2 linked regions of the Homo sapiens genome follow. Each later gene encodes a partner of the first gene's protein in a complex. Each region holds a gene or a part of one and is shown in the gene's direction. Other genes may lie near its edges.

Region 1 (16,824 bases):
CTTGTGATATCAAAGTAATTCCTAGAGCATATTAAGAGCAAATTTATTGTATGCTATTATTATACATAGTATCTCTTCATTGACAAAAGACCAATGTCTAGCTCATGTGTTTTGGCATATTGGTGCTTGAAAAATTTATTTACATGGATTTTAAGTGTTCCCTATAATCTTGATTATATAGTTATTATTTATTTTCTATTCTGTGTATGTTATTTTTGTTAATTTGTAAATTTGTGAAATTAGGGGCTTGTCTTGCTACATATTTTAATAAGATGTAATTTGCTTTTTAATCAATTCAAGATTCTGGGTTGTCTAAAGGAACATATTGGGGGAATTTGATTCTGTGTGAATTGTATGACAATGATGATAACTGGTTCTGTGAACTTTTATTGCTTTTACCAATTTTGAAGCAAAGTTCTTTGGTGCTTTGTTTGGTTCAAGATATTAAATGAGCTATTAAGCTTTTGTTCCTTTAAAGCTTTAAAAATGAACAGCTCCCGAAGTGTCTGATCTTACTGCTCTTTCTTCACTCCTAAGGTTAGCAAAGATAATGTAAGCTTTAGTCAAGTCTCATAATCTGTTGTTAAAACCTTGTTGGAAATAGCTGAATGAGGATGTAAATATGAAAAATAAAACATTTTAAGGAATGTATTTGAACATGGCGAGAAGTCAGAGAAGGGGAGGATTATGCATACTGTGTATGAATGACAACCTTTAATAAAATTGTTAGTTTTCTTGATAATTTCTTGTGCCTTTGGTGGTATGAAATTAAATATGAATTCATTTCTTTTGAGATGGTCACTGCTAAAATGATAACTCGGAATGCATGCTTTTTGCTTTAGGCCAGCTTCTTCAGGTGGTCAGAGCAGCCAATGGTGCCCAATATATCTTTCAGCCTCAGCAGTCAGTGGTTCTACAACAACAGGTTATACCACAAATGCAGCCTGGTGGAGTACAAGCTCCTGTTATACAGCAGGTAAAATAATCTTCTATTATGATCAGTATGGGGTTCTGTTTTATTCTGTATGTATTCCCTGGGTAGTTTCCCTCTCCTTATATGCACAAAAGACTCTTTTTCAGTGCTACAGACCCAGTTGTTTCAAATTTCTCCTGTATACAGCTTAACTTAGATTCAGCATGTATTAAACATGTATTAAACAATTACTGTTGTCTCTGCCCATCCTTCATCATCCCCTCGAAGGTGGCAGCACTCTCCTTCCAGCTTCCTAAGCTGGTCATTCAGCCTTTATTCAATAAGCAGTTACTGAGTCTCGGGGTATTCACAAGGGTCAGGGGATTTAGGAGTGAATGACACAGACATGACTCTAGTTTTATGATGCTTACTGGAAGTGGGTGTGTAGAATCCTCCCTTTTCCTTACCTCTAATACCCAAGGTATCAAGCCCTACCAATTCTTGTTAATAGTTTTTCTTTTCTTTTTTTTTTTTTTTTCGAGACAGAGTCTTGCTCTTTCACCCAGGCTGGAGTGCAGTGGCGCGATCTCAGCTCACTGCAACCTCTGCTTGCTGGGTTCATGCCATTCTCCTGCCTCAGCCTCCCAAGTAGCTGGGACTACAGGCGCCCACCACCACACTTGGCTAACTTTTGTATTTTTAGTAGAGATGGGGTTTCACCGTGTTAGCTAGGATGGTTTCTATCTCCTTACCTTGTGATCCACCCGCCTCGGCCTCCCAAAGTGCTGGGATTACAGGTGTGAGCCACTGCGCCCGGCCTTTTTTTTTTCTTTAACTGCAGTTTTGCCATGGTTGCAGTCCCTTAATATGTTTGACACTGTTTTTTTCTCAGCCTCTTTTTTCATTTCCTTAGTTCATACTGTCCATGATTTGTCACTAAAATGCTGCATTGTCTTCTTAATGGTTTCTCTGCCTCTCATCTTTTGCCCTCCTAACCTGGCTGATTTATAGTCATCTTTTTTTTTTTTTTTTTTTGAGACAGAGTCTCTGTCACCTAGGGTGGAGTGCAATGGCGCAATCTCAGCTCACTGCAACTCCCGCCTCCTGGGTTCAAGTGATTCTCCTGCCTCAGCCTCCTGAGTAGCTGGGATTAGTGGCACGCACCACTGTGCCCAGCTAATTTTTGTATTTTTAATAGAGACAGAGTTTCACCATGTCTAGGTTGGACTTGAACTCCTGACTTCAGGTGATCTGCCCGCTTTTGCCTCCCAAAGTGCTGGGATTATGGGCGTGAGCCACTGTGCCTGGCCTATCTTTCTAAAAATCCTAAAACTTTTAACAGCTTTTCATTGCCTACTGAGAAGAGCCTAAACAACTCAACATGGTTTATAAAATCTTTTTGTGGATCTTGTTTCTTTGAACTCTCCAGGTTTATTTCTTGCCATGCTCCCAGTTATTTTCTTTAGCTGCATTTACATCAAAATAAACACTTGGATCTACTTGTGTTATATTCTTGTGCTGTGGCACTAAAATGAAAGAGGAATGGTTATTTTCTTGAGGAACTTATGTACTTTATATGTTTATGTGTCTGTCTCTTTTTTAAATGTCAGTAAAATAGTATTATGATAGAGACAAGATCAGAGCAGTACTATTAATCCAGTTTATTTACATCTTTCCAAAATTATGTACTGCTGTCACTTCTGGGTTTCACTTGATGTTACACTTCTCTTAAGAATGCCGTCTGGCAACTCCCTGCACTTCCCCCAAACAAATAGAAAAACCTGGCTAATCTCCTTAAAGCAGCAGTCTCTTAGCTTTTTGACACCAGGGACTGGTTTTTGCAGAAGACAATTTTTCCATGTACTGGGCAGCAGGGATGGTTTCGGGGTGAAACTTTTAATTCAGGTCATCAGGCATAAGGAGTGCACAACCTCCATCCTTGCATGTGCAGTTCACAGTAGGGTTCCTGCTCCTATGAGAATCTCATGCTGCTGCTGATCTGACAGGAAGCAGAGTTCAGGTGGTGATGCTGGCTCATCCACCACTCACCTCCTGCTGTGCAGCCCAGTTTCTAACAGGGGTTGGGGACCGCTGCCTTTAAGCACAAACAGAAACTACTTACTAATAATATAAGTAATATTTGATCATGCTTTGTCCCCTAAGTTGAATTTGGTACACTCTCTTGTGTTCCCATAACACTGTGTCATATTTGTACTACATCTGCTGTGTTTTTGAGTTGTTAGTGCTTTGTCTATTATACCATTTTTTTGTCTTTTGTGTTGTTACACCACGTGTAAGCATTTTAAAGGAAATACTGTGTCTTATTTTTGCATTCCTTGAACCTAATGGCAAGTAACAAGCATCTAGTCCTCCTCCTTTATTATAATACATATAGTTAATATTTGTTAGTATATATTTTTTCAAGTTGTGGCTTACTTTAGAATCCTAGATGCAGAACCTGGAAAGGAACTTCAGAAATCTGATCTGGTGGTTTTTAGAAAAATAATTAGCTTTTATCTCACACTGAGTCAGAATATTAGGGGTATGGCCAAGGTATCAGTACTTTTTAAGTTGCCAGGTGGTTCATATTTGCAGCCAGGATTGAGAACCATTAAGCCTAGTTTGACAGTGAAACGACAGAGGCCAAGAGGAGTTAAATGACTTGCGTCTGCTGTATTTATGTCTGACTTTAGACAAAAGTAGACCCAGGTTGGCCAGGCGTTGTGGCTCACGCCTGTAATCCCAGCACTTTGGGAGGCGGGCGGATCATGAGGTCGTGAGTTCGAGACCAGCCTGACCAACATGGCAAAACCCCGTCTCTGCTAAAAATAACAAAATTAGCCGGGCATGGTGGCGCGCACCTGTAGTCCCAGCTACTCAGGAGGCTGAGGTGGGAGAATTGCTTGAACCCAGGAGGCAGGGGTTGCAGTGAGCCGAGATCACACCATTGCACTCCAGCCTGGGTGACAGAACGAGACTCCATCTATAAAAAAAAAAAAAAAAGGTAGACCCAGGTTTTCAGATTCTCAGTCCAGTGTTCTTCATGTGAAGGCAGTGTATAACTTTTGTCCTGGTAGCTGGCATATACATAGTATGTGCTCAATAAATGAAGCAGTTATCTTTAGAAAATCCTTATTTTCTAGAAATTTGATAAAATAGAAATTTAATGGGTCACTACACTAGTTAAACTAATTGCTTTTGTACTTTGGTAGTTTTTAACTGTGTATGAAATATGGCCATTCTGGTGAATCTTAAGCATTTGTTTCTATTTCTGTGTACCATACTTGATCCTCTTAACTAGTTACTGTTATGTGGTTTTCTTTTGCTTTAGGTGCTGGCTCCTCTTCCTGGAGGGATTTCACCACAGACAGGTGTCATCATCCAGCCTCAGCAAATCTTATTTACAGGAAATAAGACTCAAGTTATACCTACGACAGTGGCAGCACCTACACCAGCCCAAGCACAGATAACTGCAACTGGCCAGCAGCAACCGCAGGCCCAGCCTGCTCAAACACAAGCTCCATTGGTCTTACAAGTTGATGGAACTGGGGATACATCATCTGAAGAAGATGAAGATGAAGAAGAAGACTATGATGATGATGAGGAGGAAGACAAAGAGAAAGATGGAGCTGAAGATGGGCAGGTGGAAGAAGTAAGTTTCTAGTAACATACTTAAAATAATCTACTTGATTATTTCCTTTTTTAGTTGGTACAACACTGATAAATTATATCCTGTTTTTTTCAGAGACTGTTAGGTGCTGTACAACATAAGATTTTAAAGATAAAGTTAGATTGTTTTAACTTTAGTAAGGTTTTTATATTCTGGCTATATTTATCTTCATAAAATATAACTTTCATATAGCTGGTAATAAAAAATGTATAACAAATTAAATTGTATTAATATGTGTAGTAAAGAGTACAGGTAATTCTAACTCTGGCTTACGCATTTATAATGTGGCTTAAACATAAGACATTGGTAGATAAATAGATGTGGTTAATCTTTTGCTTCAGTAATTTAAAAAGCGTGGCAACATTTGGGGAGAGAGCAAACTCAAGAACCAAATGTCACAAATTTATTAAATATTTAAAACCTTTTGGTCCATGTTCTATACCACTTCCTTAAAAACCTATGTACCCTTAATGTCTGTGTTCTTCTAGAAGCATATAAATATGCCTTTGTTTTCCTCACTATTTCAGCTTAGTTACTAGGCTCCAAAAACTATTTGTCCCACCACAATTTTCACTGTTAATTGCCTTCGTTAGCCTAAAATGCAGTCTTTTTGTTTCTTAGTACAAAGTTCTTCTAAATTATCTAAGTAATTTTTTTTCTGAAGAAAACATAGTTTATTATTGAATATTGAATAGACACAAATGAATAGAAATGTTTCAAGATAAAAATCATCCTGGTGCCCACCATCTAGTTAAAATAAAATTCCATTATTTAAAGTGCCTTAGATGCCTCTCCCTAATCCCATCATTCCTAGGCCATCAAAGTACCTTTGCTCATACATTTGTGTTGATTATTAATTGCTTTTATATTTTACCATATATATTTATATTCCTAAATAGCATATTGTTTAGTTTTGCATGTTTACAACGTAAATGAAGTAATTACGTATTCTTCTGCAAGTTGGTTTTTTCCCCTTAAAATGATATTCCTGAGGTTTATCCAAGTTGTTGCATATAGCTATAATTATTTTCATTGCTGAATATACCATAATTTTATTTGTCAATTTTTCTAATCCAGTGGACATAAGGATTGTTTCTTGTTGTTTACTGTTACAAACAGTTATAAAATATTGTAGTGTATGTCTTCTGGGGACACAAATGCAAGAGGTTCTCTAAATTTTATACCGAACATTGAACTTCTGGCTCCTAAGTCATGCACATCTGCAACTTTATAATAAAATGCCAAATCACTTCTGCCATTCAATACATAATTGTGCAGATGTCCATACCCCCTTATCAATACCTGATAGTGTCAGGCTTCCTGATTTTTGCTGGTCTGGTAGGTAGAAAATAGTATTATTTCATTTTGGTTTTAGTTTGCATTTCCTCACTTAGGAGTTTTAGCCTCTTTTTGTATATTTATTTGATATTTGTGTTTTGTATAGAAGTGCTTATTGAGGTCTCTTGCCCGTTTCCTCCCCCTAAATTCTTCATAGTTTCAGTGCTTCTTGAAGTAACATGTTTTTATTACCTTTTCCAGTTTATTGGTAGGATGGAAATATGTAGCGCTTTTAATATTCATCCTTGAACCAGCCACCGTCCTAATGTCTTTTGTTAGTCCTCATAATGTATCTGTAGATTCTTTTGTATCTTCTGTGTAGACTTTCACATCTTATATGAAGAACGGCAGTTTTTTGTGGCTCATTGGCTAAGCCTTCGGGAACAGTATTGATTAGAAGTGGTGATAGCAGGCACTCTTCTCTTCTTCTTAAACTGAAAAGTAATCTTTTCCATGCTTCACTGTTAAGTTTAATGTTTGTTGTGGGTTTTCTTTTTTTTTAATGGATATCTTCATCAGGTTAAGTAAATTCCCTTCTTTGCATTGCTTTGTTTTTTAAACTGTAAGTGAATGTTGCATTTAATTAAACACCTTTTCTGCAATGATTTGTATAATTTCTCACGTAATGTTATTTATAATGGATTTCATTAATTGATTTTCTATTTGTAAACCAATCTTGTACTCCTGGGATAGCACAACTTGATCATTTTATATTTCTCTTTTTATAAATTGCTGAATTCATTTTGTTGAGGACTTTTTTGTAGATATTTATGATTGATAGATACTGTGTGATTTTCTGTTCTCATACTCTTCTTACAAGGTTTTCAGTTATGGTAGCTTTGTTAAATGAATTTGGGGACATGTTTCCTGTATTTTGAACTCTTTTTTTTTTTTCAAAGATTGTATTTAATTCTTCTGTTGATATTTGTTAAAACATGACACTACAGATACCTGGGTCTAGTAATCTCATGCCCTTCAAGTATTTTGTTTCTGTTTGAGACCGTTTTGATAAGTTATATTTTTCTAGGACTCTCTATATATTTATCTAAATTTTCAAGTTGATTAACATGAAGTTAATCATGATATTGTCTTTTTGATGCCAGAATCCTTTGTCATCTTCATTCCTAATATAATTATTGTGCCATCTTTTTTTTTCCCTGTTCAGTCTTACCAGGGATGTGTTGATTTTATTAATGTTTTCAAAGAGTAAACTTTTAGCTTTATTCTCTCTAGTGTGTTTTTCCCATTCTATTCTTTTCTGACTTAACTGTTTTGTTTGTAGAGAATATGATCTGTGTGATGTGTGAATCTTTTGAAATTGCTTGAGACTTGCTTGATTTGGTCAGTTTTTGTATATGCTTTGAAAAGAATGTGTTTTCTGCACTTGTTTGGTATTTGTATGTGTCTGTTAGATTTATATTGTCAGTAGGTTTGCTCAGATGCTCTTTATGTATCCTTGATATTTTTTGTGTGCTTGATCCATTTTTTTTTTGAGATGGAGTCTCGCTCTGTCACCCAAGCTGGAGTGCAGTGGCACTATCTCTGCTCACTGCATGCTCCATCCCCCGGGTTTACGCCATTCTCCTGCCTCAGCCTCCTGAGTAGCTGGGACTAGAGGTGCCCGCCACCTCGCCCGGCTAATTTTTTGTATTTTTAGTAGAGATGGGGTTTCGCTGTGTTAGCCAGGATGGTCTTGATCTCCTGACCTCGTGATCCGCCCACCTTGGCCTCCCAAAGTGCTGGGATTATAGGCATGAGCCACCGCGCCTGGCCACTTGATCCATTTTTTACTACTGAGTGAGATATGTTCATGTTTCCTGCTATGGTAGTTGATATATTTCTTCTTGTTTTTCTGCCATTTTTCCTTTTTGTATTTTGAGCCTCAAAACAGGTGCATGTAAGTTTAACATTCATTGTTTTTTCTCAGTGAGTTGAACCATTTATGATCATACAATGTCTTAAGTTATTGCTAGTAAATTTTTTTTAACCATGAAGTCTGTTTGTATGATACTGTTAGAGCTGTACCAGCTTTGTTGTGGTTAGAATTTGCCTGGTACAGCTTTTTTCATTCTTTCACTTTTCAAACATTTTGGATCTGTAAACTTAATCTTTTTAAAATAGAATATTGCTATTTATGCTATTTGTTGCAAAACTTTAACATCAACCAAGACTATTCAGTAGGGACAGAATAGTCTTCAACAAATTATGCTTGGACAATTAGATATCCGCATGCAAAAGAGTTAAGTTGGACCCCTACGGCATACCACATACAAAAATTAAAGTGGATTAGGGACCTACATCTAAGAGCTGAAATTATAAAACTCTTAGAAGAAAACATAGGGGTAAATCTCCATAGCTTTGGCAACAGTTTCTTTTTTTTTTTTTCGAGACAGAGTCTCACGCTATCGCCCAGGCTGGAGTGCAGTGGCGCGATGTCGGCTCACTGCAAGCTCAGCCTCCCGGGTTCACACCATTCTCCTGCCTCAGCCTCCCAAGTAGCTGGGACTACAGGTGCCCGCCACCATGCCCGGCTAATTTTTTGTATTTTTTTTTTTAGTAGAGACGGGGTTTCACTGTGTTAGCCAGGATAGTCTCGATCTCCTGACCTCGTGATCTGCCCACCTCGGCCTCGCAAAGTACTGGGATTACAGGCGTGAGCCATTGTGCCCAGCCGCTTGCAACAGTTTTCTTAGACATGACACCCAGAGTACAAGCAATCAAAGAAAAAGTGGACTTTGTAGATTAAAAAGGTGGTTTTTGTTTTTGTTTTTGTTTGAGACAGAATCTCACTCTGTTGCCCAGACTGGAGTGCAGTGGCATGATCGTGGCTCACTGCAGCCTCAGCATCTTGACCTCCCGGGCTGGAGTGATCTTTCTGCCTCAGCCTCCTGAGTAGCTGGGAGAAAATATTTGCAAATCATGTATTTGATAAGGATCTACTATCCAGAATATATAAAGAACTCTTAAACAGCGTAACAACAAAAAGATAATGCAATTTAAAAACTGGCAAAGAACTTGAATAGACATTTCTCCAAAGAAGATACACAAATAGCTAACAAGCATATGAAAAGATGCTCAGCATCATTAGTCATTAGAGAAATGCAAATGAAAACCACACTGAGATAACCACTTTACACCTTCTAGAATAGCTATACTCAAAAAAGAAAGAGAAAATAAATGCTGGTGAGGATTTGGAGAAATTGGAGCCCTTGTGCATTGTTGGTGGAAATGTAAAATGGTACAGCTGCTGTGGGAAACAGTTTGATAGTCCTCAAAAATTCAGTATAGAATTATCCATATGACCCAGCAGTTCCACTCTTAAATATATACACAAGAGAACTGAAAACATGTTTTTCAACAAAAACTTGTATGTGACTGTTCATAGCAGCCCTATTTATGATATCCAAGTGGTATAAACCCAAATGTTCATCAGCTGATAACAGTGGAATATTATTTAGCCATAAGAAGAATGAAGTATTCGTATATGCTACAACATGGATGAACCTTGAAAACATGCTATGTGAAAGACATCAGCCACACAACGCCACATATTATATGATTCCATTTATATGAAATATCCAGAATAGGCAAATCCATACAGACAGCAGATTATAGATTGCCAGGGGACAGGGAGAATGGGGAGTGACAGCTTAATAGGTAAGAGTGATGAAATGTTCTGGAACTAGGTAGTGGTGAGTGTTATATACACTGTAAATGTTCATTGCACCTGAATTGTACATGTACAAATGCTAAAATAGTGAATGTTGTTAACTTGAATTTTACCTCAGAGATTTTTTTTTTTTTTTTTGAGACGGAGTTTCACTCTGCTGCCCAGGCTGGAGTGCAGTGGTGCAATCTTGGCTTACTGCAGGCTCCGCCTTCTGGGTTCCCGCCATTCTCCTGCCTCAGCCTCCCGAGTAGCTGGGACTACAGGCACCTGCCACCATGCCCGGCTAATTTTTTTGTATTTTTAGTAGAGACGGGGTTTCACCGTGTTAGCCAGGATGGTCTCGATCTCCTGACCTCGTGATCTGCCTGCCTCAGCCTCCCAAAGTGCTGGAATTACAGGTGTGAGCCACCACGCCTGGTGTAGAAAATTTTTTTCATTTTACATTGATGATACCTATTTTAAATTAAAGAATATCTATACATACACACCTGTGTAAGTAGGTATAGGCCTAGACATAATAATTTTTTTTTTTTGTTCTTATTGTTGATATAGAGTCTCAGGTTGTTGTCCAGGCTGGAGTGCAATGGTGTGATCAAGGCTCATAGCTTCAACCACCTGGGTTCAAGTAATCCTCCCACCCTCATCCTCCTGAGTAGGTGGGACTATAGGCATATGCCACCATACCTCGCTAATTTTTTTTATTTTTTGTAGAGGTGGCATCTCACTGTATTTCCCTGGCTGGTCTCAAACTCCTGGCCTGAAGTGATTGTCCCGCCTAGGCCACCCAAAGTGCTAGAATTAACAGGCATGAGCCACTGTGCCTGTCCATAATATAGTCTTGATTATTGTCTTCTCTACTTTGGTTTTGTCTTCTCTTTCTGCATTTATTAGAAATCTCAGTTACATCTTCTATCTTCTGTCACAATTGAAGCGAAATTTAACATGGTTGTTTATTTTATGCTCTAGTTAGGTTTTATCTTGGCCCCTAACTCTCTTTAATGCTGAGATTTCCTACTTTCTGCCTTTAAGAAAAAAAAAAAGTCTGAATCTTAATTCTGCTTCATACCTCTACCATAACCATCATCATGCTAAACATGCTGATTTGTATTTAGAGTCCAAGTTCTTTAATGTAAAGACAGCAAGGCAGACTGCTAGCCTATTGCATTGCTCTTCTTTTCTCCTCTAATTTCTCCACTGTTTTCTGTTTTATATGATTTGTAGTACATAGTGCCATTAGCTCTTTTGAACCTTCATATTAGGTCCTTTTCTAGGCATCTTAAACAGTTATTGTAGAGAATTATCTTCTTGTACTGTTTTTAAAAAATAAAGAAAATAAAGATAGGCCGGGTGTGGTGGCTCACGCCTGTAATCCCAGCACTTTGGGAGGCCTAGGCGGGGTGGATCACGAGGTCAAGAGATCAAGACCATCTTGGCCAACATTGTGAAACACCGTCTGTACTAAAAACACAAAAATTAGCTGGGTGTGGTGGCGCGTGCCAGTAGTGCCAGCTACTGGGGAGGCTGAGGCAGGAGAATTGCTCGAAGCCGGGAGGCAGAGGTTGCAGTGAGCCGAGATTGCACCAGCCTGGCTACAGAGCGAGACTGTGTCTCAAAAAAAGAAAGAAGAAAATAAAGATAAACATCTTTTCAGACTTAAAAATTACATAGCTTAGCTAATTTAATTATATTTAATTTCTTACATTTCAGTAATATTGGCAAACTGTTAACAGCTGATTTGACAATATTAAATTCATGGCGTACATATATGCATTTGGCATTTGGTTCTCAAAGAACATCAAGGTCATTATATTTTTTTTTTCAGTGAATATTAAGGCCTTCTTATAGTAATAAGAACTCTCCTTTTATTTGTAGGAGCCCCTCAATAGTGAAGATGATGTGAGTGATGAGGAAGGACAGGAACTCTTTGACACAGAAAATGTTGTTGTATGCCAATATGATAAGGTAAGGATGTCATCTTCAGATTACTGACGTTATTTGTGTTGTAATTTCTTCCCTACATTATTCTTTCTGCCTTATTGAAACATTTGGGCAGCTGATTCATGCCTCTTAAATTCATTATGAATAGTACGAAAACCCTGTTAGAGTTTTGTGGATTATTTTAATAGAATGAAAGATTAATTTCTTAGCTTTATGTTTGAAAAATAAGTTATGAATGAAATGAAAAGAGCTACGATCTTCTTTTTCTATTTAGACAGTCTTTGAACTTGTAAGCAGAGTAAACAGCCACTTTGAGGTTGTCCTTTGTGGTAATAGCTAACTCAATGAGATAATTCTGTTTTCTATTTAGCCTCAACTATCTCAAAACTAGAAGGGTTCAATTGAATCTCTGTAACTGTTTTTATTATTAAGGAAAAGACTAAGGCAATGAACAGTGCTAAAAACAAACATAAGTTTTTACTGAAAATTATTTAAAATATTATTTAACTTTGCTGTAGTTTGCTAACATTAAGGAATTTTTAAACCAGATACTGTGAAAACTAGCCATTGATTCCTTATTTTCTTAATTCCTAGACAGGGTGCTTCTTTCCAAGTATTTTTGTTACATTTATTTGTATTATTTCTGAGATTTTTGTTTTCAAGACATTTAAATTGTAATACAGTTTTTTTATTGCAATCATTAAATTTATAATGCATGCAAATATTACGTTGCATTTATAATTTTAGTAGAGATCTTTACCAAATGCTAAAAATTCTAACAAAAGCTTATTTATTCAACATTTATAGAGTGCGGAAATTTACCAGACACTATTCTAGGCCCTGGCGATGTAGTTATGAACATGTAAAATTCATGCCTTGCATGAAGTTTCCTTTATAGATGAAGAAAATCTTAATTCTGTTGCTTTTATGGAAATGAATGTGATAAGTAGCCGTGCTTACTTCAAACAGATCTATAGGGAGAATGCCAACACTATGGATCTTATTTACTAATAAAAAGGTGGAGTTAGGCTAGTTTTACCAGTGAAGTTATAGAATGAAGACAGTAAGGTCATTGAGAGTTTCACAGCATTCATTTTTGTGCATAATGACTTCTGAGAGACTGTTCTTAAAACCATATACCATGTGCAGTATAATAAATGTAATTTCCTGTTAGATACACATAGAGCAAGACTATGAGGTTAAAACAAAAGATACCATTAAATCTTTATTGTTAGGAAGTCTCAGAGGATCTCCTTGCAACCAAATTATCCAGAACACAATTTCATGATGAGATGTCAGATTTATCAGGCAAGCGAGGACCTTTGTTTTAGCCTGACTGAAGAATATACTTTTAAGTGTCTTCCTACTTTAAGACAATGGTTGTATTCTCCTTTGGCACAAACTGTACTCATAATATTTTAAATGTTAAAATTGGTTTGTTTTGCTCCCAGAGACATTACTTTACTGTTTTAAATTAGTAAGTGGGAGATAGCTCTAAATGGTGTGCTGAATGATAAATAATTTTAAAATTTGCAGAGGTCTAATTTTGAGAATCAAATGAATTGCTCTGAAGATTGGAGGAGGGTGGTGGCTTGATGTCTTTAGCCAATAGTAAAGAACAGCAGTTTTCTTTGACTGCGCAAAATGAGGTTGGATATTGTTTGAGCCAACTTGAATTTCAGGAATGTAGTTTTGAAGCCTTAACTTTAGAATGTCAACAATGAGTCAATTTTAGAAGAGATCATAGAACGACTAATAAAGCTTGTATTGCCAATCAAATCAGAATCTTAGTTAAATGCTAATAATATGGTAGAGTTCTTGCTTACGTGTGGGTGGATAAGGGCTGATACAGCATTTAGCGAAAATAGCATCAGATGTAGGTAAACTTGCTTTAACACATTTTTAATTAGGAAATTTAAGAGGGCTTTCTCCTGGCTTTAAGAATATTCCTTCATGAAGGGCTTAGGGCCGGTAAATAGATTGCTTTTTAAGTTGTGACTTTGTACTTCTATTAATATAAAAATATTTACCATTTATTACCCAACATGACTTCAGTGTTGACTGTGTGGATTAGTTGGCCCATGAAACTTTGGTACATTTATTTTTTGCAAATTGTCCTGTCCTATGACAGAATGCAGGCAGTTTCTTTACTTGTCTATAGAATCTCTTATTTCCTGGCTACTCATCACTTTCTTGTTTTTGTCTAGCTAAGCCCACGGTCTTTCTGGTTGCAGTCACTTGGTTCATGCTGGAAATACATTTGTATACACGTTTGTAGAATAAATAATACTTTATAGGAATTCAAAGATAAGGGGAGACAGCTCTTTTCATGTGCAACAGATACTGTTTATGATGTCCCTTGGCACTATTCTTGGAGCTTGAGATACACTAATGATCAAAACAGAACAGTCCCTGCCATTGGGAAGCTTACTCCAATCAGGGGAGATAGATGCTAAAACATAATAAATTAGGATTTATTTACTTATTTAAAACATAATAAAATATTTATATGTTAGAAGCTGATAGTCGGTATGGAAAAATAAAGAGCAGGGAAAGAGGACAGGTTTGGTTTCAGTTTTAAATAGGATAGTCATAGTAGGTCTTTGGAGAAAATGACATTTTAGCAAAGACTTGGAAAGAGTTAGCCCTGTCATCTGGTGGCAGAGTCTGTTGTATGTGAGGAACAGCAAGGAGGCCTGTGTGGCTAGACTGGAGTGAGGGAAGAGGAGAGTACAGTAGTAGGTAGAGAGGTAAGGGAAGGCAGATAGTAAGGATTTTGTAAGGACATGGCTCTTACTCTTAAGTGAATCAGAAAGTTATTGGAAGGTTTCAGTGAGACAAATGGTATGAACTGATTTAAATTTTGAAAGGATTACTTTGCTTTCTTTGTAGAGAGCATAATATGAGGAGGAAGCAGAGGTTGCTGAAACGAGACTATTTAGGGGGATATTATAATAATTCACATGGGAGATAATGATGACTCGGCCTATGGTGATGGTATTAAAGTTGGTGAGAAGTAGTTGGATTTTGGATTTGTTTTGAAGGAAGAATGTTAACAGCATTTCCTGACTCTGAGATTTGTGGTAGAAAAGAAAAAGGAATCAAGAATGACTCTTGAGATTTTTTGATGAGGATTCTGAAAGAAGGATGGTGATACCATCAGTTCAGATGAGGAAAAGCTGCATGTGGAGCTGGTTGGACATGCCAAGTCTGGTATGTCCGTTAGACATTCAAGTCATCAATCTTAAGATGCTACATTTAGCATTTATGTAGTGTATTTAGACCAGAGATATAATTAGTTCTTAATCCAACAGTCTTTACCCTACCTGCTGTTTTACCTTTATTGTGCTTTGTTTTGCTTTAATAAGTAAGCAAAGTTTGAATCCAGAAGAAGAACATGAGAGTAGTTTCCAAATAAGATGAAGGTTGTTTGATTGAGTGATTTTTTTTTTTTAAGTCTCAAAAAGCAGAGCTAGGATCAATAAATGGAAGTTGGAGAAGCAGATTTCCGTAAGGGTAAACTCTGAAAGATTTTACAAGAGAGCTGTTCCAAAAAGGAATAACTTAATTTGAAATTCTTTGCTCACTGTTTCTAATCGTATTTAAGCAGACACTGCACAACCATTTGCCAGGAATATGTCATGAAGAATGTTTGCACTGGGAGGTTAGGCCATGGAATTTTAGGAATGAGATCTCAGAAAATATCTGTACCTGGCCGGGTGCAGTGGCTCACGCCTGTAATCCCAGCACTTTGGGAGGCCGAGGTGGGGGATCACCTGAGGTCAAGAGTTCAAGACCAGCCTGGCCAGCCTGGTGAAACCCATCTCTACAAAAATACAAAAATTAGCTGGGCGTGATGGTGAGTGCCTGTAATCCCAGCTACTCAGGAGGCTGAGGCAGGAGAATCACTTGAACCTGGGAGGGGGAGGTTGCAGTGAGCCAAGATCGTGCCATTGCACTCCAGCCTGGATAACAGAGTGAGACTCTGTCTCAAAGAAAAAAAAGAAAAAGAAAATATCTATACCTGTTGAGCATTTCTGCATTATTATATGAAACAGACTGATTTAGTAAAAGCGTACTGGACCAAGACTTGAAAATCATGATTGTCACTTAGTAGCAGTATACACTTGGTCAAACCATTGAACCCTATCCAATCTGTCATTTCTTCTTCTGAAAATGAAAGCCTGAACTAGTTGATTTTTTTTTTTTTTTAGGTACCTTTAGATCATAGAATAGGGAGAACCAGGGGGCCTTCTTTGCAGAAGATGTGGAACTTGAACATTAAATAATTAGTGTGACTTACTGGGAAAAGGAAGAAAGGTCACTTCAGTTCATTAAGTTTTACAACTCCTCTCCCCCACCAAATCCATGGAATTACAAACAACTACGGACTATAAGTGAAGGCAAAGATGGGAGTGCCCAGAGCCTGCCCTTCAGCTCTTTTTGTTTAACTGTGGATGTACATAGTTTTTGAAATCTGGTGTAAGTGACTGGATGATTAGCATCCTTTAGATGTATTTTTAAAATACTGCTATGTATAAGGTTCCATGGTAGTTAGGTCTTGAGAACTCTATAAGGAGTTTTATTTTGGTAGAAGAAATGAGTCCATAATTGTATTACTTACAAATAATGTAAGAAATGTCAATGAAAATACCATTGGGAATTTAACAGTGGAAAAGAATAGTTTTAGCTGGTAAGATTTGGGAAAGCTTTGTGGAGGATAGTCTTTTTGAGGTAGACCTTGAAAATATATATGCAAACCTGGTAGAGAGATAAGACATTTTGTAAAGAAATATTTTTTAACTACTTTAATGAACACAAGTACTAAAAGCTATAAAATAGTACTAATTACAGATAAATTTGTTTTTAGACCCACCTAGTGAGTTTTGTGTGTGGTTTTTTTGTTGTTGTTGTTCTTTTTGGTGAAATTAAACTTTATTAAGAAACCAATTTTTAGGCCAGGTGCTGTGACTCACGCTTGTAATCCCAACACTTTGGGAGGCTGAGATAGAAGGATCACGTGAGGCCAGGAGCTCGAGCCCAGCCTGCACAACATAGGAGACCCTTCTTCTACAAAAACAAACCAATTTGCAAATACAATACTGTAAATACTGTTTTGTGGGGGGGTGTGTGTGTACGTGTGTGTGTGTATGGGTTTTTTGTTACTTGTTTTCTCTGTTTTCTGATTGTATCTCTCAATTTTTAAAATGTTGTTTTTGTTTAGATACACAGAAGTAAAAACAAATGGAAATTTCATCTCAAGGATGGCATTATGAATCTTAATGGAAGAGATTA
Region 2 (16,824 bases), on another chromosome or scaffold:
TAAATGGAAGAGCTGGGTTCCTTAGCGATCACATGAACACACACGATGTTAAAAAAAAAAAAAAAAAAAAAAAGGCAGCATGAGGTCGGGCGCGGTGGCTCACACCTGTAATCGCAGCACTCTGGGAGGCCGAGGCGGGGGATCACCTGATGTCAGGAATTCCAGACCAGCCTGGCCAACATGGACAAACCCCGTGTCTACTAAAAATACGAAAATCAGCCGGGCGTGGTAGCGCACGCCTGTAATCCCAGTTACTAGGGAGAATGAGGCAGGATAATTGCTTGAACCCAGGAGACGGAGGTTGCAGTGAGCCCAGATCGCGCCACTGCACTCCAGCCTGGCAGACAGACCGAGACTCCATCTCAAAAAAAAAAAAAAAAAAGGCAGCATGAGCTTAATGCGGGAAGTACAATTTAACCTAAGGAACAGAAAACAAGAATCTCATATCTCAACTAGTAAAAATAATGACAGTGTTCCTTTAGACTTACAGAACAGACTTGGGGAAAGGGAGTAACTTTAGAACCTTCTGGGGTCTTTCACTTTAAAATGACCGTTGCCGAGTTTAGAGCTCTCTCAGCATTCAATCTATTCCATCTCTGGGGTTAGAGAGGGAGCAGGAAGCGGTGGTCTGCAAGGCTCAGAAGTGACTGGTGAGGCCCTTTCCTCCTCCTCCTCATCTCTCCGTGACTACCGAGCCCGGGAAGACGGACCGGCAGGTGCACTCCCCAAGGCCTCGACAGCAGCCAGAGAAAGGCAGCGACAGGGAAAGACGAGTCAGGCTCGCGACCACCAGAGAGAGAGGCCCTCACGCCCAGCCGAGCGTCAGCTGGTCGGTCCGGTCCGCGCGCCAGACGGCGGTGCTCGGCCGTGCCCGGTCCCTGCCCTCCCCATTCTCCGCTCCCCACCGCGCCCAGCTGCGCCGACGCCCCCGTCCGCCCCCACACCACCCCTGCCTTCACGTCCTACCTGCCGGCAGGCGGACTCAGCCCGTGCCCAACTGCTCGTCGGACCCCGTTGTCTGGGGAGCCCTACTCTTTCCGCGGCTCCCGGCCGGGACCCTCCACCCGGCGGCTGGCGGCTCGTGACCCCGCCCCCTCGGCCCGCTCTGGGCCCGCCTCCCGCCGGCTGGCTCCACCCACAATAGCGTCCCTAGCGCGATGGCGTATCGGCGCAGGCGCACTCTGCCGGCAACGCCGAGGCGCTTCTGCATCTGTGGGCCGAGGTGTGTGGCGAGCGTCCGAGCGGCTGGGGAAAGTGGGGTGTGGGAACACTGAGGGGTCCCAAAGAAAGGGGAGAGGAAGAGAAAAGCCCCAGAAGCCTGTCCACCGGGTGCTGGGGGCACAGGGCGGTGTCCCCCACTCTCTCCGGGCCCTTCCTGGCGGGGCCGCACGGCAGTCCCCCCCTCGTTTAATCGTGGGTTTCCTGTGGGGCTAGGGCTCGCCCTGCGCCCAGGTGTAAGTGGAAGTTAATTAAATGGGCGTACGCTGAGTGGTTTGTTTCCAGCCTAGGTCCGCACGGGACGTGATTTATTTAGTGAAGGGGCACAAGATCTGGAGATCTGGCTTGTACTTTTTTCCTTTGGCCAGGAACTACGGCTTAATCTCTTCCTTTGGTCTCCTCATATGTAAAATGAGGTGGCTGAGGCCGGGCGCGGTGGCTCACGCCTGCAATCCCAGCACATTGGGAGGCCGAGGCGGGCAAATCACTTGAGGCCAGGAGTTCGAGACCAGCCTGGCCAACATGGTGAAACCCCGTCTCCACTAAAAATACAATAAATTGGCCTGGCGCGGTGGCTCACACCTGTTGTCCCAGCACTTTGGGAGGCCGAGGTAGGTGGATCATTTGAGATCAGGAGTTCGAGACCAGCCTGGCCAACATGGTGAAACCCTGCCTCTACTAAAAATACAAAATTTGGCCTGGCGTGGTGGCGGGCGCCTGTAGTCCCCGCTGCTTGGGAGGCTGAGGCAGGAGAATCGCTTGAGCCCGGGAGGCAGAGGTTGCAGTGAGCCGACATCACGACACTGCGCTCCAGCCTGGGCGACAGAGTGAGACTCTGTCTCGAAGTGTATATATACATATATATATATTATATATGTATTTTATATATAATATATATTTATTTTATATATAATATATAATATGTATATTATGTATATTATATATAATACGTATATTATATATAATACATATATATAATATGTATATTATATATTATATATAATATTATATTGTATATTATATATTATATATAATATATTGTATATTATATATATTATATATTATATATATTATATTGTATATTATATATAATATATTGTATATTATATAATATATTGTATATTATATATAATATACAGTATATTATATATAATATACTGTATATTATATATAATATATTGTATATTATATATAATATATTGTATATTACATATATTGTATATTACATATAATATATTGTATATTACATATATTGTATATTACATATAATATATTGTATATTATATAATATATAATATATATTATATAATATATTGTATATTATATATTATATAATATATTGTATATTATATATTATATAATATATTGTATATTATATATAATATATTGTATATTATATATTATATATTGTATATTATATATTATATATAAAAGTGTGTATATATATACACACACACACACACGATACAACACAGTACATTAGCTGGGCTTAGTAGTGCATGCCTGTAGTCCCAGCTACTCGGGAGGCTGAGGTGGGAGGATCGCTTGAACCCAGGAGGCAAGAGGTTGCAGGGAGCAGAGATCGCGCCACTGCACTACAGCCTGGGCGGCAGAGCCAGACCCTGTCTCAGTAAAATAAAATATAAACTAAAAGGAGGTGGTTGGGCTCACTGTATAATTTTTGAAGCACCTTTCAGAACTATCTTCTTTGATTCCTGTCTCCCAGGATCTTACCCTTTGTCATTCTCCTGAATGGGAAAAGAAATCCTTTGAATAATGGACGGTTTATACCTGGGTTGGGCACACTGGTGTAGAGTTAGGCCTCTTGCTTCTATTAGGGCTAATTGACCTTGGGTAGAATTGGCTGGCGAGTAAGATGTGGCATTAATATTCCAAGTAGACTCATTTTAATTTTGTTAAAAAATCAGAATGTCTTTTTTCTTAATGTTAACTGTCTTTCATAGACTTAACTGTTAAATATTGACATTTAATTATTTTGCCTCGTTTCAGAGGCAGATCCCCAAAGTATATGAAAGTTAATGATTTTTAATTTAATGTTACCTTACTCTTTTTATTAGCATTCTTCAGGTCATCTGAACCTTCTGAGAAAACATGGTCAACGTCTTGAAAGGAGTGCTTATAGAATGGTTAGTAGTTTTGATACTGCATGAGTTTTAAGTTTAAATATTGAATCTTGACTTGTATGTATGTCTTTTCTAAAACCCTGTTGTTTTTAAGATATGGATGAAATCAAGTCTTTCGCTTTTAACAAGTGGCACAGATTTTGTTGCAAAGCTCCTGGTGCCAGATTTCAGTCCCTCTGTTGAATTGATGGAACTGGCATGATCAGAGGCAGCATATTTGTTAGATGAGTCGTCTTTAGAGAAACAGTGCTTGCATTCTCCTCAAACATGATGAATTTTAGGGCCTGAAAGAGTTCAGGAACTTGCTTAAGTCTTTACCATTACAAACTGTGGACTTTAAAAAAGAGAAAAACAACAGAGCCAAATGGAGGTTTCTTAAATTCCTTTAGGTACATTCCAGAGGAGAAACTAAAAACCATAAATGGGCAGAGTTGAGTTCCTCAAAGCAATCCAGTGTCCAGGAACCCCGGGAACCCTGCTCTGTGGACACTCCCATTGTCTGAAAATACTACTGTCTACTTTCGGTGCCTCTAATATGAGCCAGTGCATGGATAATGATACTGTTTACTGTGATGGCAAGGCTAAGGAGGAGCAAGACCAAACCCTAGGACACTGCCAACATTTAGAACAGCACTAGCCAATAGAAATCTAATGCAAGCCACAGATATAGTCTTACATTTTTTCTAGCCATCTTAAAAGTAACGTAAAATGAAACAGGTGAAGTTAATATCTTTTGTTTAACCCTGTCTATGCAAAACACTATGCTTTGAACACATACTAAGTCTTCAAAAAAATCTTCATCTTCAAAGTCGAATGGATATTTTAATTTTACAGCACATCTCACAGACTAACCGTGTTTCAAGGACTCTGTAGTGACCTGACTAGTGGGCTACCTTATGCATAGTGCAGATTTGGAGTTTTGATACAGGAGACACCAACAAAGGCAACTAAGAAGAAAATAGCCAGTGAGGCTGGAGGGAGGAAAGCCAAAGGAGGAAGTGTTTTGTAGGGATGAGCGGCTGTGTTGGGCACTGATTGAGAACTGGCATGAGATGAAGACTGGAGTTTTGATGAGAGCCATTTGAATGGAGTGGTGGGGAGATGCCAGATTGAAGTACTGTGGAAAAGGAAAGGGAGGTGAGGAGGTGGAGATGGAGACTTCGGAGAAGTTTTACTGTGATCATGAGCAATCTCATAGAGAACTGGATTGGTAGCTGACGAAGGACATGGTGAGGGGCTCAGGTTCTTGCTATTTTTATTTTAATGTGAAAGACTAGAATGTACGTTGATGAGAGTAAACCACTGCGGGGGAGAGGTATTCACTTGGAAAAGCAAAGGGGGTGGGATCTGGACCCCAGAAGTTCTAAACACACTGTTCTGTTGTCTTTTGAAGGCACTAGGTTTGATGTACTTATTTTCCTATTAATTTGACATAACATAAACATTTTCCTCGTTGGCCTTTAGTGTTATTTTTAAATACAGAGGATACACATACACAGAGTGTCAGCTATCACTTTTTTTCCCTCGTTTCTTCCAATTCTAAGTTTAATCTTCACCCCTGGGTTTGTTAAATATTCACTTCTCTCTTCTGAGGGTTTTGTGTTTTTCTTGGTGTTTTAGATTCATTCATCTAGAATTTATTGGGAGGAGTGGCATAGGTTTGTTAAATATTCACTTCTCTCTTGTGGGGATTTTGTGTTTTTCTTGGTGTGTTAGATTCATTCATCTAGAATTTATTCAGAGAAGAGACATATTATTAGATAAGGATCTAAATTAGCTTCTTTTTTTTTTTTTTGACACGGAGTCTTGCTCTGTTGCCAGGTTGGAGTGCAGTGGCGCGATCTTGGCTCCTGGATTCAAGCGATACTGCTGCCTCAGCTGCCCGAGTAGCTGGGATTACAGGCACACACCACCACACCCGGCTAATTTTATTTTTGTATTTTTAGTAGAAATGGGGTTTCACCATGTTGGCCAGGCTGGTCTCGATCTCTTGACCTCATGATCCACCTGCCCCGGCCTCCCAAAGTGCTGGGATTACAGGCATGAGCCACTGCACCCAGCCTAGCTTCTTTTTTGTTTTGGGTGTTTTTGTCTGTTCATTTTGCCAAATATCTAGTTCTCCACCATTATTTCCTTTCTTAATGATGCTTGATGCCTCCTTAATCACATAATTTTACTCCCCTTGCTATTCTCTTTCATCCCTTCCCACATTCATCTTTCTTGTTGCCTATTCTAGAATAACCTTGAAATAACTTAGTCTGTTTCCAAAATAATCCTTTTGGCATATTGGTTGGAATTGCATTAAACCTACGTTTTAATTTGAAAAAAAAGATGACTGGATTGCATCTTAAAGAACAAAACTCTGGGGAGACTCTGAAGTCTCAGTGCCCGGTTTGCTGTCCCGTATCTAACCTCTGAATTCTACCTGGTCTCTCTAATGACTGTCCATCACCTTGCACTTCAGGGTAATCCCCAGACTAGCAGTAATAGCATCATCTGGAGCTTGTTAGAAATGCAAAATCTCAGACCTCACCCTAAATCTACTAAATCAGAATTGTGCATACAAAGAATCTTGTTAAGATGCATTTAAATTTTGAGAAGCAATAATACTGTTAATCAGCTTCAGTTTAATAATGTTTCCCTGTGGAGAAGTGTTTTGCACCAGGACTATTAAATTTTATTTTGCAGGTTAGGTACCATCCTTGCAAAACTAATTTTTCCCTTTGAAGTGAATTCTAAAGTGTAGTCTGCACAATTTTTCAAAAGGGTAACTCTGTCTTCCCAAAAACACAAGTCTTCCAAAAAGATTTTGGGCCTAAGAAATAACATAGATTCCCAAAGGAAAGGGTATGGCCAGTGCTAGTGGATTCCCTTTCACAGTTAGATGCAGATGTTAGGATGGTAACTGGAAAAGTCCTTCAGTTTCCCTCATGTCCATATTTGATGCCAAGGAGAAGCCTGTTAATAATATGATTATCAGTATAAGTCTGTTTATTACTTCATAATATCCATGGATTGTATGAAGCATTTAGGTGTATTGGAGTATGGAATTTGATAGGTCTGGAGTTTACAGGCAGACCACTCAAGGATCTTCTACAGCTGTTGCAGGTGAATACCAAAATTGAGGCTCAGCCCTGGAAGCCAAGTTGGTTTTTGGCTTCATGCAGGAAAGAATTCAAGAATGAGCCACAGAGTAAAGTGAAAGCAAGTTTATTAAAAATGAGGGAATAAAAGGGTGGCTACCCCATAGGCAGAGTGGAGTGGGGAGGGTGGGAAGCAGGCGGGCCTGCTAACTGGCTATTTTATGGCCATTTCTTGAGTATATGTTAAACAAGGGGTGGATTATTCGTGAGTTTTCTGGAAAAGAGGCAGGGATTCTGTGGAACCAGGAGTCCCCAGTCCAGACCATACGGGGTAACTTCTAGATATTGCCATGGCATTTGTAAACTGTCGTGGTGCTGGTGGGGGTGGTTTTTAGCGTGCGCATGCATTATGATTTGTGTATGATAGTGGTGAAGGTTGCTTTTGTTGCCATCTTGGTTCTGGCTGGTTTCTTTACTGTATCCTCGCTTATCGGTGGGGTCTTCTGACCTGTTGTTTACTGTCTCTCTTGTCTTGGAAACTAGTCCTGCTGAATTCCTATCTCACAGCTGCTTCCACTGTCCCAGGAATCTCTCCAAATTCCAGTCCCATCATTGTATTAATAGAAACTGATGTGTAATAGCTTATATAGTGCTGATCCACATATATCTTAGATTGGCTTCACTTAACTGCCATATTTAAACTCCATTTCTATCAGTTAAGTTTAACTGATTTTGAGTCTGCAGAGATTTGCTAAAGAAGTAAACCAAATTATGATGATGGCCATTTATTCTCACCTTCAGAGAATTGAAAAATCAGGGCACTTGGATATAATCTTAACTCCCAAGGGCTTATCAAATACTAAAATTGAAGGCTATAAAAGAAGTTTTATGTTTATAAATTTGCACTTTTATGTCAAAACTGAAAGGTTGGTGAAAATTTCCTCTTTGTTGGGATCCACCATCAATTGCCAGGCTCACACTAAGTATTCTCCCAAATCTAGCCACCAAGCAATTACCAAAGCAAGCAACACATGACCACAGTATGTCTGTGTCCAGTTCCAGATGCTGGAGCAGACCTCTGGTATAACAGTTGCCACAATTGGTTTGGCAAGTGCTTCAGCAAAGATTTGTTGCCAAGGTGCAAATTCCAACCAGTTTACATCACAATAGCAAAGAATCTGGAGAAATATGTATTATTAAACTACACTTATCCTTATGAGTTTGGCTTCTAAAGCTATATCGTTTATGAGAAGCGAAGTAAGAAGTATGGCAAAACCAGTCTAACCATTGTTCTGTTTTTTTCTCAGCATGTATAAATCTTTTCTCAGCCTTTGCCTCTTAGTAGGGCCATGTTCGCTGAAGTTTTCCAGGCACCCAAAACTGTGCCTGAGATGTGTGTGTGTGTGTGTGTGTGTGTGTGTGTGTGTATACACACACACACACATACACATATATAGATATGGCTTAGTAAATATTTGTGTACTGAATAAATTTTGTTAACAGAATTGAGTCCAGGTTTGTGATCTCAGCCAAAATCCCAAATTTATTAATGTTCCTTTAGAGCCTCTCTATTCCTACAGTGAGATTCACAGTGAATAAGATGGGATTCTTGATAAATTAAAGTTTTAGTTTGAAACAGATGTGTATACTAGGCCTCCTTTTAGCATGTTGTATATCAAAATAGCTTTTAAATGAGGAGGCTGTTGTCTTCCAGTCATAGCTTTTAAAAAGCAAGCACCCCACCAAGCTGCTGATGGAAGTGTAATCCCAAGAAACAACTGTAAGCAACTTGTGATGGGTGTTTTGTGCTTTTATATCCTTTAACACAATAACTCCGTTTCTATAAGTTTATCTTTAGGAAATCGCTGGGTGCAGTGGCTCACGCCTGTAATCCCAACACTTCAGGAGGCTGAGGCGGGTGGATGGCTTGAGGTCAGGAGTTTGAGACCAGCCTGGCCAACATGGTAAAACCCTGTCTCTACTAAAAATACAAAAATTAGCTGGGCATGGTGGTGGACGCCTGTAATCCCAGCTACTGGGGAGGCTGAGGCAGGAGAATCACTTGAACCCAAGAGGCAGAGGTTGCAGTGAGCCAAGATCATGCCACTGCACTCCAGCCTGAGCAACACAGTGAGACCCCATTTCAAAAAAAAAAAAAATTTTAGGAAATGATCAGAACTGCCAATAAAAATGTATGTATTTAATGTGCTAGAAAAAGAAATTTGTTGATTGTGGCATATTTTAATCAAATAATATAGCTGTTAAAATATTTGCAGACATTTTAAGTGATTCAGGGAAATGACACTGTACAATGATGTTAAGTGAAAACACCTGGATTCCTGTACTAACGCTGTTTTCCATGTGACATGTGCTATACTAAGCACTTGCTAATATTAATTTAGTTTTCACAACAGCCCTTTGAGGTAAGTGCTGTCATCTCCATTTATGGATGTACAAAGTGAGATACTTTGTATCAATTAATCAATTGCTCAGTTACATAGCTATTGTTAAACTGGGATTTTAAATCCCGGTATTCTGGCTCCAGAGCCCAGGCTACTAAACGTTACATATACTATCTCTCCATTATAAAACTAAGTATAATATTGTGTTTGCTTTTGTTTTTTTTTTGAAACGGAGTCTCACTGTCACCCAGCCTGGAGTGCAGTGGCACAATCTTGGCTCACTGCAGCCTCTGCCACCTGGGTTCAAACGATTCTCCTGCTTCAGCCTCCCAAGTAGTTGGGATTACAGGTGCCTGCCACCATGCCTGGCTAATTTTTGAAGTTTTAGTAGAGATGGGGTTTCACTATCTTGGCCAGGCTGGTCTTGAACTCCTGACCTCGTGATCCACCCACCTCGGCCTCCCAAAATGCTGGGATTACAGATGTGAGCCATTGCGCCCAGCCTATGTTTGCTTTTTAAAAGGATATACGTATGTCTTAGAATTATACCATATATATTCATAGGTTAATGGTTTTGTAATTGAAATAGTAAATTGCCGAGACCAGCTCGGTCTGGGAGACCCTAACCCAGCAGCGCTAGAGGAATTAAAGACAGACACACAGAAATATAGAGGTGTGGGGTGAGAAATCAGGGGTCTCACAGCCTTCAGAGCCGAGAGCCCCGAACAGAGATTTACCCACTTATTTGTTAACAGCAAGCCAGGGATGAGCATTGTTTCTATAGATTATAGATTATAGATTACCTAAAAGTATTCCTTATGGGAAACAAAGGGATGGGCCAAAATAAAGGGATGGGTTGGGCTAGTTATCTGCAGCAGGAGCATGTCCTTAAGGCACAGATCACTCACGCTATTGTTTGTGGTTTAAGAAAGCCTTTAAGCGGTTTTCCGCCCTGGGTGGGCCAGGTGTTCCTTGCCCTCATTCCAGTAAACCCACAGCCTTCCAGCGTGGGTGTCATGGCCATCATGAACATGTCACAGTGCTTCAGAGATTTTGTTTATGGCTAGTTTTGGGGCCAGTTTATGGCCAGATTTTGGGGTGCCTGTTCCCAACAGTAAATCATTTGATAGGGATAGAACTAATTGTAATTTAAACCTCTCTGCCTATATCCTCTCACATGGTCTTGGCATTTTAATTGCTCATTTGAGTACCTACTATGAGCAAGATGTTTTAGAAATATTCTGTAGTCCATCAACTTTGCAGTGTAGCTATGGTACTAACATTGCTGTTACAGATCACAGGCTCTTTGGCTCCCTATGTAATAAAAATTAACACAGAGCTATACAGTTTTCCCAGATGAGGCTTTTATTTCAGGGTTTATCCACAAATGCAAGGGAGACAGTACAGTAGTAAGAACTCTGCGGCTGACCCCCAAAAAAGCTGATGGGGACTTTTTGATTAGGCAAAGCATGGGAATTGACATCAGGGATAAGGTATGCAGGCTGCGCTGGGTAAAGCACATGAAGGGTACAGTATGTGGTCAGCATCTGTGGTTGCAGTGGTTATCATACTTTAAGTTCTGGGTTAAATGTGCAGAACGTACAGTTTTGTTACATAGGTATACATGTGCCATGGTAGTTTGCTGCACCCATCTACCCGTCACCTACACTAGGTATTTCTCCTAATGTTATCCCTCCCCTAGACCCCAACACCCCACAGGCCCTGGTGTGTGATGATCGCCTCCCTGTGTCCATGTGTTCTCATTGTTCACCTCCCACTTATGAGCGAGAACATGCAGTGTTTGGTTTTCTGATCTTGTGATAGTTTGCTGAAAATGATGGTTTCCAGCTTCATCCATGTCCCTACAAAGGACATGAACTCATCCTTTTTTATGACTGCATAGTATTCCGTGGTGTATATGTGCCACATTTTCTTAATCCAGTCTATCATTGATGGACATTTGGGTTGGTTCCAAGTCTTAGCTATTGTGAATAGTGCCACAATAAACATACATGTGCATGTGTCTTTATCATAGAATGATTTATAATCCTCTGGGAATATGCCCAGTAATGGGATTGCTGGGTCAAATGGTATTTCTAGTTCTAGATCCTTAAGGAATCGCCACGCTGTCTTCCACAATGGTTGAACTCCCACCAACATTGTAAAAGCATTCCTGGCTGGGCGCGGTGGCTCACACCTGTAATCCCTGTAATCCCAGCACTTTGGGAGGCCAAGACAGGCGGATCACGAGGTCAGGAGATCGAGACCATCCTGTCTAACACGGTGAAACCCCGTCTCTATTAAAATTAGCCAGGCATGGTGGCTACTCAGGAGGCTGAGGCAGGAGAATGGCATGAACCCAGGAGGTGGAGCTTGCAGTGAGCCAAGATTGTGCCACTGCACTCCAGCCTGGGAGACAGAGCGAGACTCCATCTCAAAAAAAAAAAAAAAAAAAAAGCATTCCTATTTTTCCACAACCTCTCCAGCATCTGTTGTTTCCTGACTTTTTAATGATCGCAATTCTAACTGGTGTGAGATGGTATCTCATTGTGGTTTTGATTTGCATTACTCTAATGACCAGTGATGATGAGCATTTTTTTATATATCTGTTGGCTGCATAGATGTCGTCTTTTGAGAAGTGTCTGTTCATATCCTTTGCCCATTTTCTGATGGGGTTGTTTGCTTTTTTCTTGTAAATTTGTTTAAGTTCTTTGTAGATTCTGGATATTAGCCCTTTGTCAGACAGGTAGATTGCAAAAATCTCCCATTCTGTAGGTTGCCTGTTCACTCTGATGATAGTTTCTTTTGCTGTGCAGAAGCTCTTTAGTGTAATTAGATCCCACTTGTCATTATTGGCTTTTGTTGCCATTGCTTTTCTTGTTTTAGACATGAAGTCTTTGCCCATGCCTGTGTCCTGAATGAAGCCCAGGTTTTCTTCTAGGATTTTTATGGTCCTAGGTGTTATGTTTAAGTCTTTGATCCATCTTGAGTTGATTTTTGTATAAGGTGTAAGGAAAGGGTCCGGTTTCAGTTTGCTGCATATGGCTAGCCAGTTTTCCCGACACCATTTATTAAATAGGGAATCTTTTCCCCATTGCTTGTGTGTGTCAGGTTTGTCAAAGATCAGATGGTGGTAGATGTGTGGTGTTATTTCTGAGGCCTCCGTTTTGTTCCATTGGTCTATATATCTGTTTTAGTACCAGTATCATGCTGTTTTGGTTACTGTAGCCTTGTAGTATAGTTTGAAGTCAGGTAGCGTGATGCCTCTAGTTTTGTTCTTCTTGCACAGGATTGTCTTGGCTATGTGGGCTCTTTTTTGGTTCCATATGAAGTTTAAAGTAGTTTTTTCCAATTCTGTGAAGAAAGTCGGTGGTAGCTTGATGGGGATAGCATTGAATCTATAAATTACTTTGGGCAGTAAGGCCATTTTCACGATATTGATTCTTCCTATCCACGAGCATGGAATGTTTTTCCCTTTGTGTCCTCTCTTATTTCCTTGAGCAGTGGTTTGTAGTTCTTGAAGAGGTCTTTCACATCCCATGTTAAGTTGTATTCCTAGGTATTTTATTCTGTTAGTAGCAATTGTGAATGGGAGTTCACTCATGATTTGGCTCTCTGTTTGTCTGTTATTGGTGTATAGGAATGCTTGTGATTTTTGCACATTGATTTTGTATCCTGAAACTTTGCTGAAGTTGCTTATCAGCTTAAGATTTTGGGTTGAAATGGTGGGGTTTTCTAAATATACAATCATGTCATCTGCAAACAGAGATGATTTGACTTCCTCTCTTCCTATCTGAATACCCTTTATTGCTTTCTCTTGCCTGATTGCCCTGTCCAGAACTTCCAATACTATGTGGAATAGGAGTGGTGAGAGAGGGCATCCTTGTCTTGTGCCGGTTTTCAAAGGGAATGCTTCCAGTTTTTGCCCATACAGTATGATATTGGCTGTGGGTTTGTCATAAATAGCTCTTATTATGAGATAATAAGAGATACATTCCATCGATACGTAGTTTATGGAGAGTTTTTAGCATGAAAGGCTGTTGAATTTTGTCGAAGGCCTTTTCTGCTGTTGAATTTTGTCGAAGGCCTTTTCCGCATCTTTTGAGATAATCGTGGTTTTTGTCATTGGTTCTGTTTATGTGATGGATTACATTTATTGATTTGCGTATGTTGAACCAGCCTTGCATCCCAGGGATGAAGCTGACTTGATCGTGGTGGATAAGCTTTTTGATGTGCTGCTGGATTCGGTTTGCCCGTATTTTATTGAAGATTTTTGCATAGATGTTCATCAGGGATATTGGCCTAAAATTCTCTTTTTTTGTTGTGTTTCTGCCAGGGTTTGGTATCAGGACAATGCCGGCCTCAAAATGAGTTAGGGAGGATTCCCTCTTTTTCTGTTGATCGGAATAGTTTCGGAAGGAATGGTACCAGCTCCACTTTGTACCTCTGGTAGAATTTGGCTGTGAATCCATCTGGTCCTGGACTTTTTTTGGTTGGTAGGCTATTAATTATTGCCTCAATTTCAGAATCTGCTGTTGGTCTATTCAGAGATTCACCTTCTTCCTGGTTGAGACTTGGGAGGGTGTATGGTCCAGGAATTTGTCCATTTCTTCTACATTTTCTAGTTTATTTGCATAGAGGTGTTTATAGTATTCTGATGGTAGTTTATATTTCTGTGGGATCGGGTTGATATCCCCTTTATCATTTTTTATTGTGTCTGTTTGATTTTTCTCTCTTTCTTCTTTATTAGTCTTGCTAGCGGTCTATCTATTTTGTTGATCTTTAAAATAAACCAGCTCCGGGATTCATTGATTTTTTTTTTTTTTGAAGGGTTTTTTTGTCTCTATCTCCTTCAGTTCTGCTCTGATCTTAGTTATTTCTTGTCTTCTGCTAGGTTTTGAATTTGTTTGCTCTTGCTTCTCTAGTTCTTTTAATTTGATATTAGGGTGTCGATTTTAGATCTCTCCTGCTTTCTCTTGTGGGCATTTAGTGCTATGAATTTCCCTCTACACACTGCTTTAAATATGTACCAGAGATTCTGGTACGTTGTATCTTTGTTCTCACTGGTTTCAAAGAACATCTTTATTTCTGCGTTAATTTTGTTATTTACCCAGTAGTCATTCAGGAGCAGATTGTTCAGTTTCCATGTAGTTGTGTGGTTTTGAGTGAATTCTTAATCCTGAGTTCTAATTTGATTGCACTGTGGTCTGAGAGACAGTTTGTTGTGATTTCTGTTCTTTTACATTTGCTGAGGAATGTTTTACTTCCAATTATATGGTCAATTTTAGAATAAGTGTGATGGGATGCTGAGAAGAATGTATATTCTGTTGATTTGGGTCGGGGAGTTCTGTAGATGTCTGTTAGGTCCACTTGGTCCAGAGCTGAGTTCAAGTCCTGGATATCCTTGTTAATTTTCTGTCTCATTGATCTGTCTAATATTGATGGTGGGGTGTTAAAGTCTCCTGTTATTATTGTGTGGGAGTCTAACTCTCTTTGTAGGTCTCTAAGAACTTGCTTTACGAATCTGGGTCCCCCTGTATTGGGTGCATATACGTTTAGGTTAGTTAGCTCTTCTTGTTGAATTGATCCCTTTACCATTATGTAATGGCCTTCTTTGTCTCTTTTGATCTTTGTTGGTTTAAAGTCTGTTTTTAATCAGAGACCAGGATTGCAACCTCTGCTTTTTTTTTTTGCTTTGCTTTCGCTTGGTAGATCTTCCTCCATCCCTTTATTTTGGGCCTATGTGTGTCTTTGCACATTAGATGGGTCTCCTGAATACAGCACACCAACGGGTCTTGACTCTATCCCATTTGGCAGTCTGTGTCTTTCAATTGGGGCATTTAGCCCATTTACATTTAAGGTTAATATTGTTATGTGTGAATTTGATCCTGTCATTATGAGGCTAGCTGGTTATTTCGCCCATTAATTGAGGCAGTTTCTTCCTAGCATCGATGGTCTTTACAATTTGGCATGTTTTTGCAGTGGCTGGTACCGGTTGTTCCTTTCCATGTTTAGTGTTTCCTTCAGGAGCTCTTGTAAGACAGGCCTGATGGTGACAAAATCTCTCAGCATTTGCTTGTCTGTAGAGGATTTTATTTCTCCTTCACTTATGAAGCTTAGTTTGGCTGGATATGAAATTCTGGGTTGAAAATTCTTTTCTTTAAGAATATTGAATATTGGCCCCCACTCTCTTCTGGCTTGTAGGGTTTATGCGGAGCGATCCGCTGTTAGTCTGATGGGCTTCCCTTTGTGAGTAACCTGACCTTTCTCTCTGACTGCCCTTAACATTTTTTCCTTCATTTCAACCTTGGTGAATCTGACAATTATGTGTCTTGGGGTTGCTCTTCTTGAGGAGTATCTTTGTGGTGTTCTCTGTATTTCCCGAATTTCAATGTTGGCCTGCCTTGCTAGGTTGGGGAAATTCTCCTGGATAATATCCTGAAGAGTGTTTTCCAACTTGGCTCCATTCTCCTCGTCACTTTCAGATACACCAATCAAACGTAGATTTGGTCTTTTCACATAGTCGCATATTTCTTGGAGGCTTTGTTCATTTCTTTTCATTCTTTTTCCTCTCATCTTGTCTTCTTGTTGTATTTCATGAATTTGATCTTCAATCAATGATATCCTTTCTTCTGCTTGATCAAATCGGCTATTGAAGCTTGTATGTGCTTCACGAAGTTCTCGTACTGTGGTTTTCAGCACCATCAGGTCATTTAAGCTCTTCTCTACACTGGTTATTCTAGTTAACCATTCGTCTAAACTTTTTTCAAGGTTTTTAGCTTCCTTGCGATGGGTAGAACATCCTCCTTTAACTCACAGAAGTTTGTTATTACCGACCTTCTGAAGCCAACTTCTGTCATCTCGTCAAACTCATTCTCCATCCAGTTTTCTTCCCTTGCTGGTGAGGAGTTGTGTTCCTTTGGAAGAGAAGAGGTGTTCTGGTTTTTGGAATTTTCAGCCTTTCTGCTCTGGTTTCTCCCCATCTCTGTGGTTTTATCTATCTTTGGTCTTTGATGTTGGTGACCTATGGATGGGGTTTTGGTGTGGATGTCCTTTTTGGTGATGTTGATGCTACTCCTTTCTGTTTGTTAGTTTTCCTTCTAACAGACAGGACCCTCAGCTGCAGGTCTGTTGGAGTTTGCTGGAGGTCCACTCCAGACCCTGTTTGCCTGGGTATCACCAGTGGAGGCTGCAGAACAGTAAATATTGCTGCCTGATCCTTCCTCTGGAAGCTTCATCGTAGAGGGGCACCTGCCTGTATGAGGTGTCTGTCAGCCCCTACTGGGAGGTGTCTCCCAGTCAGGCTACATGGGGGTCAGGGACCCATTTGAAGAGGCAGTCTATCCATTATCGGAGCTCAAATGCCATGCTGGGAGAACCACTGCTCTCTTCAGAGCTGTCAGGCAGGGACGTTTAAGTCTGGAGAAGCTGTGTGCTGCCTTTTGTTCAGATATGTCCTGCCTTCAGAGGTGGAATCTAGAGAGGCAGTAGGCCTTGCTGAGCTGCAGTGGACTCTGCCCAATTTGAGCTTCCCTGCTGCTTTGTTTACACTGTGAGCATGGAACCGCCTACTCAAGCCTCAGCAATGGCGGTCACCCCTCCCCCCACCAAGCTCCGGTGTCCCAAGTCAATCTCAGACGCTGCGCTAGCAGCAAGCAAGGCTCCGTGGGCGTGGGACCCACCGAGCCAGGCACAGGAGGGGATCTCCTGGTCCGCTTGTTGCGAAGACAGTGGGAAAAGTGCAGCATTTGGGCTGGAGTGTATTGCTCCTCCAGGTATAGTCACTCATAGCTTCCCTTGGCTAGGAAAGGGAAATCCCCTGACCCCTTGCACTTCCTGGGTGAGGCGACACCCTGCCCTGCTTCGGCTCGCCCTCCATGGGCTGCACCCACTGTCCAACCAGTCCCAATGAGATGAACCAGGTACCTCAGTTGGAAATGCAGAAATCACCTGTCTTCTGTGTCGATCTTGCTGGGA

The links.
Region 2: GTF2A1 (region 1) and GTF2H5 share a complex: the UniProt entries of both Homo sapiens proteins name them as parts of the TBP-based Pol II pre-initiation complex.

Annotation. Positions count from the first base shown.
Region 1 is NC_000014.9:81,180,260-81,197,083, reverse strand, and holds part of GTF2A1 (transcription initiation factor IIA subunit 1), read left to right. Parts: intron 1-842; coding exon 843-976; intron 977-4,244; coding exon 4,245-4,565; intron 4,566-11,463; coding exon 11,464-11,553; intron 11,554-16,753; coding exon 16,754-16,824. UniProt on the Homo sapiens protein: TFIIA is a component of the transcription machinery of RNA polymerase II and plays an important role in transcriptional activation. TFIIA in a complex with TBP mediates transcriptional activity.
Region 2 is NC_000006.12:158,167,174-158,183,997, forward strand, and holds the start of GTF2H5 (general transcription factor IIH subunit 5), read left to right. Parts: upstream 1-1,176; 5' UTR 1,177-1,222; intron 1,223-3,296; 5' UTR 3,297-3,330; coding exon 3,331-3,365; intron 3,366-16,824. UniProt on the Homo sapiens protein: Component of the general transcription and DNA repair factor IIH (TFIIH) core complex, which is involved in general and transcription-coupled nucleotide excision repair (NER) of damaged DNA and, when complexed to CAK, in RNA transcription by RNA polymerase II.